Regions from separate parts of the Homo sapiens genome. Here region 1 is linked to region 2. The links come from fine-mapping of genetic effects on gene expression. A gene starts in region 2. The other region holds a variant in brackets. All regions are shown on one strand. Distances are between the middles of the regions.

Region 1 (5,370 bases), 34 kb before region 2:
ACAGATTTCACTCTGTTGCTGAGGCTGGAGCACAGTGGCACAATCTCATCTCACTGCAACCTTCGTCTCCTAGGTTCAAGCGATTCTCCTGCCTCAGCCTCCCGAGTAGCTGGGACTATAGGCACCCGCCACCACGCCCGGCAATTTTTGTTTGTTTTGAGATAGAGTCTCGCTCTGTCACCCAGGCTGGAGTGCAGTGGCACGATCTCAGTTCACTGCAACCTCTGCTTCCTGAGTTCAAGCGATTCTCCTGCCTCAGCCTCCTGAGTAGCTGGGATTACAGGCGCCCCCCAACCACACTCGGCTAATTTTTGTATTTTTAGTAGAGACGGGGTTTCGCTATGTAGGTCAAGCTGGTTTCAAACTCCTGACCTCAAATGATTCGCCCACTTCAGCCTCCCAAAGTGCTGGGATTACAGGTGTGAGCCACCTTGCCTGGCCAATTTTTGTATTTTTAGTAGAAACAGGTTTCACCATGGTGGCCAGACTGGTCTCAAACTCCTGACCTCAGGTGAACTGCCCACCTCAGCCTCCCAAAGTACTGGTATTACAGGCGTGATCCACTGCGACTGGCCTTGATTTTGTTTTTGAGACAGAATCTTACTCTGTCGCCCAGACTGGAGTGCAGTGGCACAATCTCAGCTCACTGCAACTTCTGCCTCATGGGTTCAAGTGATTCTTGTGCCTCTACCTCCCGAGTAGCCGGGATTACAGGCACCTGCCATTACGCTAGGCTAATTTTTGTATTTTTAGTATAGACAGGGTTTCCCCACATTGGCCAGGCTGGTCTGGAACTCCTGGGCTCAAGTGATCCACCTGCTTCAGCCCCTCAGAGTACTGGGATTATAGGTGTGGGCCACCACGCCCATTCAGAAACCTCCATGTTTTAAGGAGCCCTCTGGGTAACTCTCATGTTCACCCAAGCTGCTGAACCCTGTCCTGGAGTTTTCAGAGGGACGCGTATGTGCCACAGAGCGTCCCGCTGGTGGGGGTCATGGGAAGCCATGACCTGGGATAGACAGTCGTCTGTAGAGTGGGGTGAACATTCCCTGGGCCCTCTGTTTCATCACTCCTCTTCTCTGTTCCCCCTACCTCCTGTCCACAGTGGATACTGAGGCTGTGTGGCTGCTCCAAGGCTGGCTCTTCCAGCACCAGCCGCAGTTCTGGGGGCCCGCCCAGATCAGGGCTGTGCTGGGAGCTGTGCCCCGTGGCCGCCTCCTGGTTCTGGACCTGTTTGCTGAGAGCCAGCCTGTGTATACCCGCACTGCCTCCTTCCAGGGCCAGCCCTTCATCTGGTGCATGCTGCACAACTTTGGGGGAAACCATGGTCTTTTTGGAGCCCTAGAGGCTGTGAACGGAGGCCCAGAAGCTGCCCGCCTCTTCCCCAACTCCACCATGGTAGGCACGGGCATGGCCCCCGAGGGCATCAGCCAGAACGAAGTGGTCTATTCCCTCATGGCTGAGCTGGGCTGGCGAAAGGACCCAGTGCCAGATTTGGCAGCCTGGGTGACCAGCTTTGCCGCCCGGCGGTATGGGGTCTCCCACCCGGACGCAGGGGCAGCGTGGAGGCTACTGCTCCGGAGTGTGTACAACTGCTCCGGGGAGGCCTGCAGGGGCCACAATCGTAGCCCGCTGGTCAGGCGGCCGTCCCTACAGATGAATACCAGCATCTGGTACAACCGATCTGATGTGTTTGAGGCCTGGCGGCTGCTGCTCACATCTGCTCCCTCCCTGGCCACCAGCCCCGCCTTCCGCTACGACCTGCTGGACCTCACTCGGCAGGCAGTGCAGGAGCTGGTCAGCTTGTACTATGAGGAGGCAAGAAGCGCCTACCTGAGCAAGGAGCTGGCCTCCCTGTTGAGGGCTGGAGGCGTCCTGGCCTATGAGCTGCTGCCGGCACTGGACGAGGTGCTGGCTAGTGACAGCCGCTTCTTGCTGGGCAGCTGGCTAGAGCAGGCCCGAGCAGCGGCAGTCAGTGAGGCCGAGGCCGATTTCTACGAGCAGAACAGCCGCTACCAGCTGACCTTGTGGGGGCCAGAAGGCAACATCCTGGACTATGCCAACAAGCAGCTGGCGGGGTTGGTGGCCAACTACTACACCCCTCGCTGGCGGCTTTTCCTGGAGGCGCTGGTTGACAGTGTGGCCCAGGGCATCCCTTTCCAACAGCACCAGTTTGACAAAAATGTCTTCCAACTGGAGCAGGCCTTCGTTCTCAGCAAGCAGAGGTACCCCAGCCAGCCGCGAGGAGACACTGTGGACCTGGCCAAGAAGATCTTCCTCAAATATTACCCCCGCTGGGTGGCCGGCTCTTGGTGATAGATTCGCCACCACTGGGCCTTGTTTTCCGCTAATTCCAGGGCAGATTCCAGGGCCCAGAGCTGGACAGACATCACAGGATAACCCAGGCCTGGGAGGAGGCCCCACGGCCTGCTGGTGGGGTCTGACCTGGGGGGATTGGAGGGAAATGACCTGCCCTCCACCACCACCCAAAGTGTGGGATTAAAGTACTGTTTTCTTTCCACTTAAACTGATGAGTCCCCTGGGTCTGTCAAAATGAGAAGGTCACTGCTGCCACGCTTGGGAGGACTCAGGGCTATAGCATGGCCCTGGGGTGGGACCTGTTCTCCCATCCCTTGCCTCACGTCCCTGTTTTTGTTTGTTTGTTTGTTTGTGACGGAGCCTTGGTCTGTTGCCCAGGCTTGAGTACAATGGCACAGTCTCGGCTCACTGCAACCTCCGCCTCCTGGGTTCAAGCAATTCTTGTGCCTCAGCCTCCCCGGTAGCTGGGACTATAGGCATGCACCACCACGCCAGGCTAATTTTTTTTTTTCCAAGATGGAGTCTTGCTCTGTCGCCCAGGTTGGAGTTTAGTGGCACCATATTGGTTTACTGCAACCTCTGCCTCCCGGGTTCAAGCAATTCTCCTGCCTCAGTCTACCAGGGAGTTAGGACTACGGGCCTGTGCCATCACGCC[C/T]GGCTAATTTTTGTATTTTTCATAGAGATAAGGTTTCACCATGTTGGCCAGGCTGGTCTTTAACTCCTGAACTCAAGTGATCCACCTGCCTCGGCCTTCCAAAGTGCTGGGATTACAGGAGTGAGCCACCGTGCCCGGCCACGTCTCTCTTTTTAACACTAATGTTACCCTGACCTTTGAACGTAGAATGCCCTTCTGTTGCAGGAAAACCTCTTTTCAAACCATGTTTGTCCTTTGCTGGCATGCCACAGCAACAGTCACCAACACAGAAGACTTCTGTGACCAAATATTTGGAGGATTTTCCCCACACACACCAAGCAGCAGACATCAGCTGGGTGTCCTCCAATTCAGTTCCAATGTAATCAACCAGAGACAGCATCAGATCCCACAGGGTTAGGGTGCAGATCCATGAGACCACCCCCTCCTTCCCAACGGTTACAAGTCCTGATCCCTGGAACTTCTGACTAACTGGCTTCAAGTTGGAGTTCCCATGACCCCCTTCCCCTCTTTGGAGTCAACTCATTTGCGACAGTGACCCACGAAACACAGGGAAACCCTTATTATGTTTATTGCTTTATTACAGAGGAAAAAAATTTTTTTCTTTCTTTTTTGAGACAGGGTCTCACTCTGTCATCCAGAATGACTGCAGTGGCAGGATCTGGCTCCGTCACCCAGGCTGGAGTGCAGTGGCATGATCTCGGCTCACTACAGCCTCCATCCCCCCAAACCCCACGCCTCAGCGCCCCACCCCGCAAGTGGCTGGGACTCTAAGCATACACCACCACACCCAGCTAATTTTTTTGTAGTTTTTGCAAAGACGGGGTCTCATTCTGTTGCCCTGGCTGGTCTTGAACTCCTGAGCTCCAGCAATCCCCTTGCCTTGGCCTCCCAAAGTGCTGGGATTACAGGCATCAGCCACCGTGCCCAACCTCAAAGGATATTTTAAAGGATAGAAATAAACAGCCATATGAAGAGATACAGACAGGGCGGTCTGGAAGGGCCCAGAGCAGGAGCTTCTATCTCCATAGAGTTGGGGTTACATCACCCTCCAGGCACATGGATGAGTTCTTCACCTTCTGTCAGCCTCCACACGTTCAGCTCTCAGAAGCTTCCCGAACCCTGTCCTTTGGGCCTTTTATGGAGAACTCCATTGGCTGTCCATGACTGAAGCATGGACAACTGTGATAATGTGATTGGGCAAAAAGGGTCTGATCTAAGCCCAGCAAGGCCAGTCCAGATTCTTTGGGCCTTTGTGCAGCATTCCTTTCTCCAGGGTATGGGGCAAGGACCCACTCTGGAATGAGGATCCTACAACCCACAATCAGATTAGAATCCTGCCTTGGGCAGCTGAAAAGAGGACAGGAGAAGGTCAAAGAGAGGAAAGGCTGTTTTTTGAGGCCTGAGGCGCCCCAACATGACAACGAAAGACTGTAACCATGGTCATGTGAGTTATGAGCTAGGAACCCTGGACGAAACCAACACATATACAATCATCTCCCACCTCCCAACACCTTTACTTTCACAGCCTCTGCAGCAAACTGCGGTCACTATAATCGCTCCTGTGGCACAGAGGCATACCCAGGGGAATCTGCCCAGGGGGCCACTCTGTGCCCACGTGGGAACCCACATCTGCTTGTAAAGCCTCCCCTCCCTCTGACCAGAAACGAGGACAGTTTGTTGTTCCAAGCAGTGGGCTCATGTCTGTTTTGGCTCAGAACAGGGTGGGGAGAGCGGGCCAGGGACCCGCAGGAGGGCTTATCCTTGAGATTGCGTGGGAGACACAACAAGGGGTGGGGGCCCGCAGGCGGGGCGGGGCGAAGCAGGTGATATCCAGCCCAGAGCCCCAGCCTCTCCCCACAGTCTCACCATGGCCTGCACCGTGGTGCTCATCACCGGCTGTTCCTCAGGTATTGGCCTGCACTTGGCAATACATCTGGCTTTGGACCCATCCCAGAGCTTCAAAGGTATAGATAGGTAGGGACAGGGAGGGAGAGAAGGGAAAAGCCCTTGGAGGCCAGAAGAGAAGTCAGATCTTCCTCCTCTCCCAAAACCTCCAGTGTATGCCACGTTGAGGGACCTGAAAACACAGGGCCGGCTGTGGGAGGCGGCCCGGGCCCTGGCATGCCCTCAGGGATCCCTGGAGAGGTTGCAGCTGGATGTAAGGAACTCAAGCTCCCTGGCCGCTGCCCGGGAACGCGTGACCGAGGGCCGTGTGGATGTGCTGGGTGAGCCTCCTGGAAGCATATGGGCTCCTAGGAGCCTTCTCCGCCCTGCGTTGAAACCAACATGTCCCCAGGCCCCTGGAGCATGAGGGGACAGGCCGTGCTGAGGGTGATGCTGAGGCGGGCTGGTTGGGCCTCTGTCCCCGCAGTGTGTGACACAGGCCTGGGCCTGCT
Region 2 (5,370 bases):
AATCCCAGCACTTTGGGAGGCCGAGGCGGGTGGATCACGAGGTCAGGAGATCAAGACCATCCTGGCTAACACGATGAAACCCCATCTCTACTAAAAATACCAAAAAAAAAAAAAAAAAAAAATTAGGCTTCGTGGCGGGTGCCTGTAGTCCCAGCTACTCTGGGAGGCTGAGGCGGGGGAATGGCGTGAACCCAGGAGGTGGAGCTTATAGTGAGCCGAGATTGTGCCACTGCACTCCAGCCTGGGTGACAGAGCGAGACTCCGTCTCAACAACAACAACAACAACAATAACAAAAAGAGATAAGGGCCTGAAAAAGAAACAATTAGCTCGGAGCATTCAAGGAAGATTTCTGGAAAAGGTGATGTCTAAGTGAAATCCTCAAGGAAAGAAAGAGCTGGCCAGGAAGAGAAGCAGGTACAGGGAAGACAACATGCAAAGGACAGAGCAGTAAAACACACCAGAATTATCTAGTGTTCGTGGATAGAAAAATAATGAGGATTGGTGAGGCCAGAGGCTGGCTGGGGCGTCTTCCGGTGCCTTTTACATGTTTTTTGCAGCACTAGAGAGCCATTGAAGAGTTTTAAATAGGGAAGGTGCATGACCAGATCTATTTAGACAGATCATTCTGACTGCAATGTTTAAGAGTTTAAGATATGTTTGAAGAGCCAAGATCTGTTAGGAGGATACTGCAACAAATAAAGAGGGCGTGAACTAGAGCAACCATGGCAGATGGAAAGGAGAGTGGATTCAAGAATGGAAAAATTAGCCAGGCTCTGTGGTTCACGCCTGTCCTCCCAGCACTTTGGGAGGCCAAGACAGGAGGATCACTTGAGCCCAGGAGTTGGGACCAACCTGGGCAGCACAGTAAGACCCATCTCTATAAAAATTAAAAAAATAAATAAAAACGGAAAAATCAGCTGGACTTGATGGTTGACTAGTAAAGGAAGTCAAGAATTGCTCCCAATTTCTGGTTTGGGTGAAGAGTAATTCCATTAGGGGAGGAGAATGTTAGAAAGAAACCAGTCCGGGGTGGGGGGAAGATGAGGCATTCTACTGTGGCAATTTTGACTCTGATATTAATGCCTGACAGATTCCAGCTGGAGGTCTGGGCTGGAGAATATAAATTTGATATGTGTGTTTAGAGAATCGGATGGAGGCAGGAGGAACATCATTTGGCAGAGGGTGTTGCTAATGTAGATGATAAGGAATAAGAGCTTTGGAGCGGAAATGGATCTTGGTAGCAACAATACAGAATCTTCTGTCATCCATCATATTGTAAATCTGGAAACCTCGTGAAGTTGGGATCCTAACAAGAGGAGTACACACCTTGATTTAAGGATGGTGGCCTAAGACAGGTGAGTTTTCCATGGGGGGCCTTGTCCCCAAAGAGTTCACACCAGGAGTAGATTCACCCGTTGTCGGGCTCTCATGGGTGACAATCGGCGCAAGTTCTCCTCACCTGATCCGCAAAATAGATCTTCTGCTTGCCGTACATCTTCTCTTTGATCTTGCCTTGTTGCGCCAGCTGCTCCAGCGTCTTCACCACCACCTGGCAGAGGAGAGAGAAGGAGCAATCAGAGGAGTCTGAGCCTGGGTCTGGGGAAATCCAGCCAGTGATGTGGAAAACGCCCAAGGCTCCAAAGGGCACGACCCCAGCCTGAATCCAGGGAGTCCGACGGAGAGGGAATCCCGGGAGAAGGTCCTCACCGCCTTGCCCAGTCCGTGTTCCCGCTGTAGGTTCCCGAACACATCCTGGGAGCTGTAGGGCCGGTTCTGCTCCTGCAGGTACCTCAGGAGGATCCCGGCGGCTACGGAGAGAAAGGCAGGGGAGGGGGCCACTCAACCGACCTCCTCACCCACTGCCCTCCCGGGTCTTCCCCGCGCCCACGGCGCCGTTACCTCCCGCCGCAGCTTCTGCCCGGCCTTTACTCATCGCCTTTCCCGCCACCCAACTCAGAAAGCCGGACGTTGTAGTTGCTCGGGGCGACGGCTCCTTCCGGCGACGGGGGCGGGCCTCGAACGGTGATTGGCTGAAGGGGAAGCCTTCCGGAGGAGCAAAGCGACCCCTCCCGGACTCCATAGTTCATTTCAGGTCGGAACTTGCGCATTCGGGCCGGACCTCAAGCCATGGGCCTCTGCGAAGGCGCCGGCGTGCCCACGGCTAAGAAACTTCCTCTTTCTGCTCCCGGGAACGAAGGCTGTAGCAGAGAAGGCCTTCAAGTTTCGAGACCCAGTTCCAGCCGCAGCTGAGCACTGGTGACCTTGAATTAAGTCTAATGTTGGGATTGGAAGACGCTTCAGACATCCGCTGCCGCCCTGGGCAAGCGACCAGCTCAAGGTTACCCCACAGGGACGTGCTCTGGTCCCACGGTCCAGTGCTCTTTTGTCGGTTAGTTTTGTCATTTGTAAAATAGGAACAGTAGATAGTGGTAGGAAAGTGGTTGTGAAAACTTAATAGAAAGCTAAGCGCCTTGGTCGGGCGCAGTGGCATGTCACCCCTGCAATTCTATCACTTTGGGAGGCTGAGGCGGGCGGATCGTTTGAGCCCAGGAATTCGAAACCAGTCTGGGCAATATGAAACCCCATCTCTGCAAATAAAGTACAAAAAATTAAGAGTGGTGGCGCGCTTCTGTGGTCCCAGCTACTCTGGAGGCTGAGGTGGGAGGGTCACCAGAGCCCCGGACATCGAGGCTGCAGTGAGCCACTATGAGCGCGCCACTGCACCCCATCCTGGCGACAGAGCGAGACGCAGTCTCGAACAAAAAAAAAAAAAGTGGGAAGGGGGGACAGCTAAGCGCCTTGGAGAGCAACCACCCTTATTTGCCTAATACCGAGCTTCGCACCCAGGGGGCACTCGACACCTACTGTAGTTTGGACGCCAAGGAACGATAGGGTTAGGAGGGGGCTACTGTTCAACCACAAAGCTTGTGGAAAAGTTTGTTAGCCCAGACAATCTCAGGGCAACACCTGGCAGGTGCTTTCCACCCCTGACCACAGTGGCCAATGGGACAGAGCCTGAAATAAATATTTCTAGTTTCTGAGGTGAGCTGAAGGCCAAAGAGCAGCTGTCCCTGCAGCTCAGACCATCCAGTGAAGGAGTAAGGTGCTACTTTTTAAAGCCTTCTGCTACCTACAACCTCCTTAGCCTTTAAAACGTGTGCTTGTCTCTGCACGTTTAGGAGACAATATTAAGAATTAGAAATGAAAGGGCCGAGCGCGGTGGCTCACGCCTGCAATCCCAGCACTTTGGGAGGCCAGGGCGGGCGGATCACGAGGTCAGGAGATCGAGACCATCCTGGCTAACACTGTGAAACCCCATCTCTACTAAAAATACAAAAAATTAGCCAGGCGTGCTGGTGGGCGCCTGTAGTCCAAGCTACTCAGGAGGCTGAGGCAGGAGAATGGCGTGAACCCGGGAGGCGGAGCTTGCAGTGAGAGATCGCACCACTGCACTCCAGCCTGGGCGACAGACCAAGACTCCGTCTCAGGAAAAAAAAAGAAATTAGAAATGAAGGAAATACAGGCTAAATACTAGCCAAGAGTGCCAGTTATACTGATGGTGGGGCTCTCACAAGAAGGAAAGTAGCCTCATACTATGGTGATGTTCTGGCCATCACGAAGTAAAAATAGGGGTGGGCTGGTGGGTCCCTCATACCTGGGCTTCCTCTTTTAAGGCTATCACTTCAAATTAATCAGAACTCAGATTTACAAGAGAAGACCTATCAAGGGTAGGACACCATTCAGCATCAGTCTCTTAAAGATTGTTCTCATACAAGATTTATTCCCCAGCACACCCCTCCCCTCCTCAGTTCACAGTGGAGACTATGGAGATTCAGGGCAGGATCCCTCAGGTACAAGAAACACCTTCCGAAGATTTTGCTCTCCTTCCTTCCCTCCCTCTTGCCAACTCCCAAGGCCTGAAGCGCACACTCATGCAAACACACGAAATCCCCCTCCTTCCCCACACCTCCTGTCTTTCCACATCAGAGCTCTGAACTTGAGAGGTGTCAAAAGTCTGTTTGAGAAGCCTAAAGTGGGGAGATGCCATTACCCCTGACCACCCCACTATGAGTGACTATGAGACACCTAACTCTTCCCTCTTCTGTCAACCATTTTCACTCCCTGGCCTCTGTACCTTCTCCATCAACCAAGAGCAAACATGTCAGCACACCCCCACCTGCAGTACATGAAAACAGGCTCTGTCCAACATCCCTCACCCAAGTACAGGGGTGTTGGGGGAGTGGCCCCTGAGGATCAGCAAAGGGTTAATGCAGAAGGAAAGAGGACAGAAGCGTTTGGCTTGAGCTCTGCTTGGGGAGGCAGAGGCTATAGACTGGCACAGGTTTAGAATCAAGTACCATGTTTAGGTTTCTGTCTCACATCACATGATTTCACTAGGGGCTGCAGAACAGATACCCCTCAGAGGGGTCTCTGCTGATTACAGCCACATTCTTACTATTGGCTCATCCTTAAAGGAGGCCCCACCAAGTTGGGAAGCAGTTGAAAATAAAAGCTGTAAAGGAGCTGAACAGGAAGTAAGAATAGGTGGTGCAAGAGATTATGGCCCCTGGGATGAATGACATGGAGCCATTTGTAAAGTGCTACTGTATCATCCCCCATGAATTATTGCTTCTCCAAAGGAGGAGCAGAGGAAGGAACAGGAACATAGAAATGAGTATGGTATTGCTTTGCTCACTGCTGAGGCTGATGGCCAGATGGACCCAGGGGTTATCAGAAACCGAAGATTAACTACACAGCTCCAGAAGACTCAGACCTCAAAATACAGAGGTGCTCACTAATCCTCCCAGCCAGCTGATCCCCCTGGGCCAAGGTAATGTAGAAGAGGCCCATCCCCACATCATATTCACATTTTTTAAATTTCACAAGCAATACTTTGGACCACTGGGGTTCAGGCCCCAAGAAATGATGGGCTAGATGAGAGGGAGCAGGCCTGTTCTGCAAAACCAAAGGACAAGTTTGCTTTAAAAAAAAAAAAAAATCACGCTGGGCACAGTGGCTCACACCTGTAATCCCAACACTTTGGGTGGCTGAGGCGGGCTGATCATTTGCAGTCAGGAGTTCTAGACCAGCCTGGCCAGCACGGTGAAACCCCATCTCTACTAAAAACACAAAAAAATTAGCCGGGCATGGTGGTGCATGCCTGTAATCTCAGCTACTGAGGAGGCTGAGGTAGGAGAATCGCTTGACCCGGCAGGCGGAGGCTGCAGTGAGCCGAGATTGTGCCACTGCACTCCAGCCTGGGCAACAGAGAGAGACTCTGTCTCAAAAAAAAAAAAAAGAAAAGAAAAGAAAAGAAAAAAATCAAATCCTGGTTTAACAAAAGATGACGACTAATCCCAGCACTCTGG

The links. PIP is the estimated chance that this variant, and not a neighbour inherited with it, causes the effect. A credible set is the group of variants that fine-mapping cannot tell apart.
Region 1: its variant is the best candidate, but not a certain one, in a credible set for the expression of PSMC3IP in thyroid (GTEx, PIP 0.57).

Annotation. Positions count from the first base shown.
Region 1 is chr17:42,541,923-42,547,292 of GRCh38, forward strand. It overlaps NAGLU (N-acetyl-alpha-glucosaminidase), which reads left to right. Exons shown (of 6, transcript NM_000263.4): 6 at 1,106-2,527. The coding sequence ends at 2,316. It also overlaps the pseudogene HSD17B1P1. Among named protein-coding and RNA genes, the nearest start is that of HSD17B1, 8.3 kb to the right of the region's middle. The variant C/T (reference allele first, on the strand shown) is at 2,975.
Region 2 is chr17:42,575,753-42,581,122 of GRCh38, forward strand. It overlaps PSMC3IP (PSMC3 interacting protein), which reads right to left and starts at 1,977. Exons shown (of 8, transcript NM_016556.4): 1 at 1,901-1,977; 2 at 1,709-1,809; 3 at 1,461-1,550. The coding sequence starts at 1,934. RETREG3 (reticulophagy regulator family member 3) reads right to left here. Exons shown (of 9, transcript NM_178126.4): 9 at 3,763-5,370. RefSeq lists a silencer at 1,889-1,938 and an enhancer at 2,239-2,328.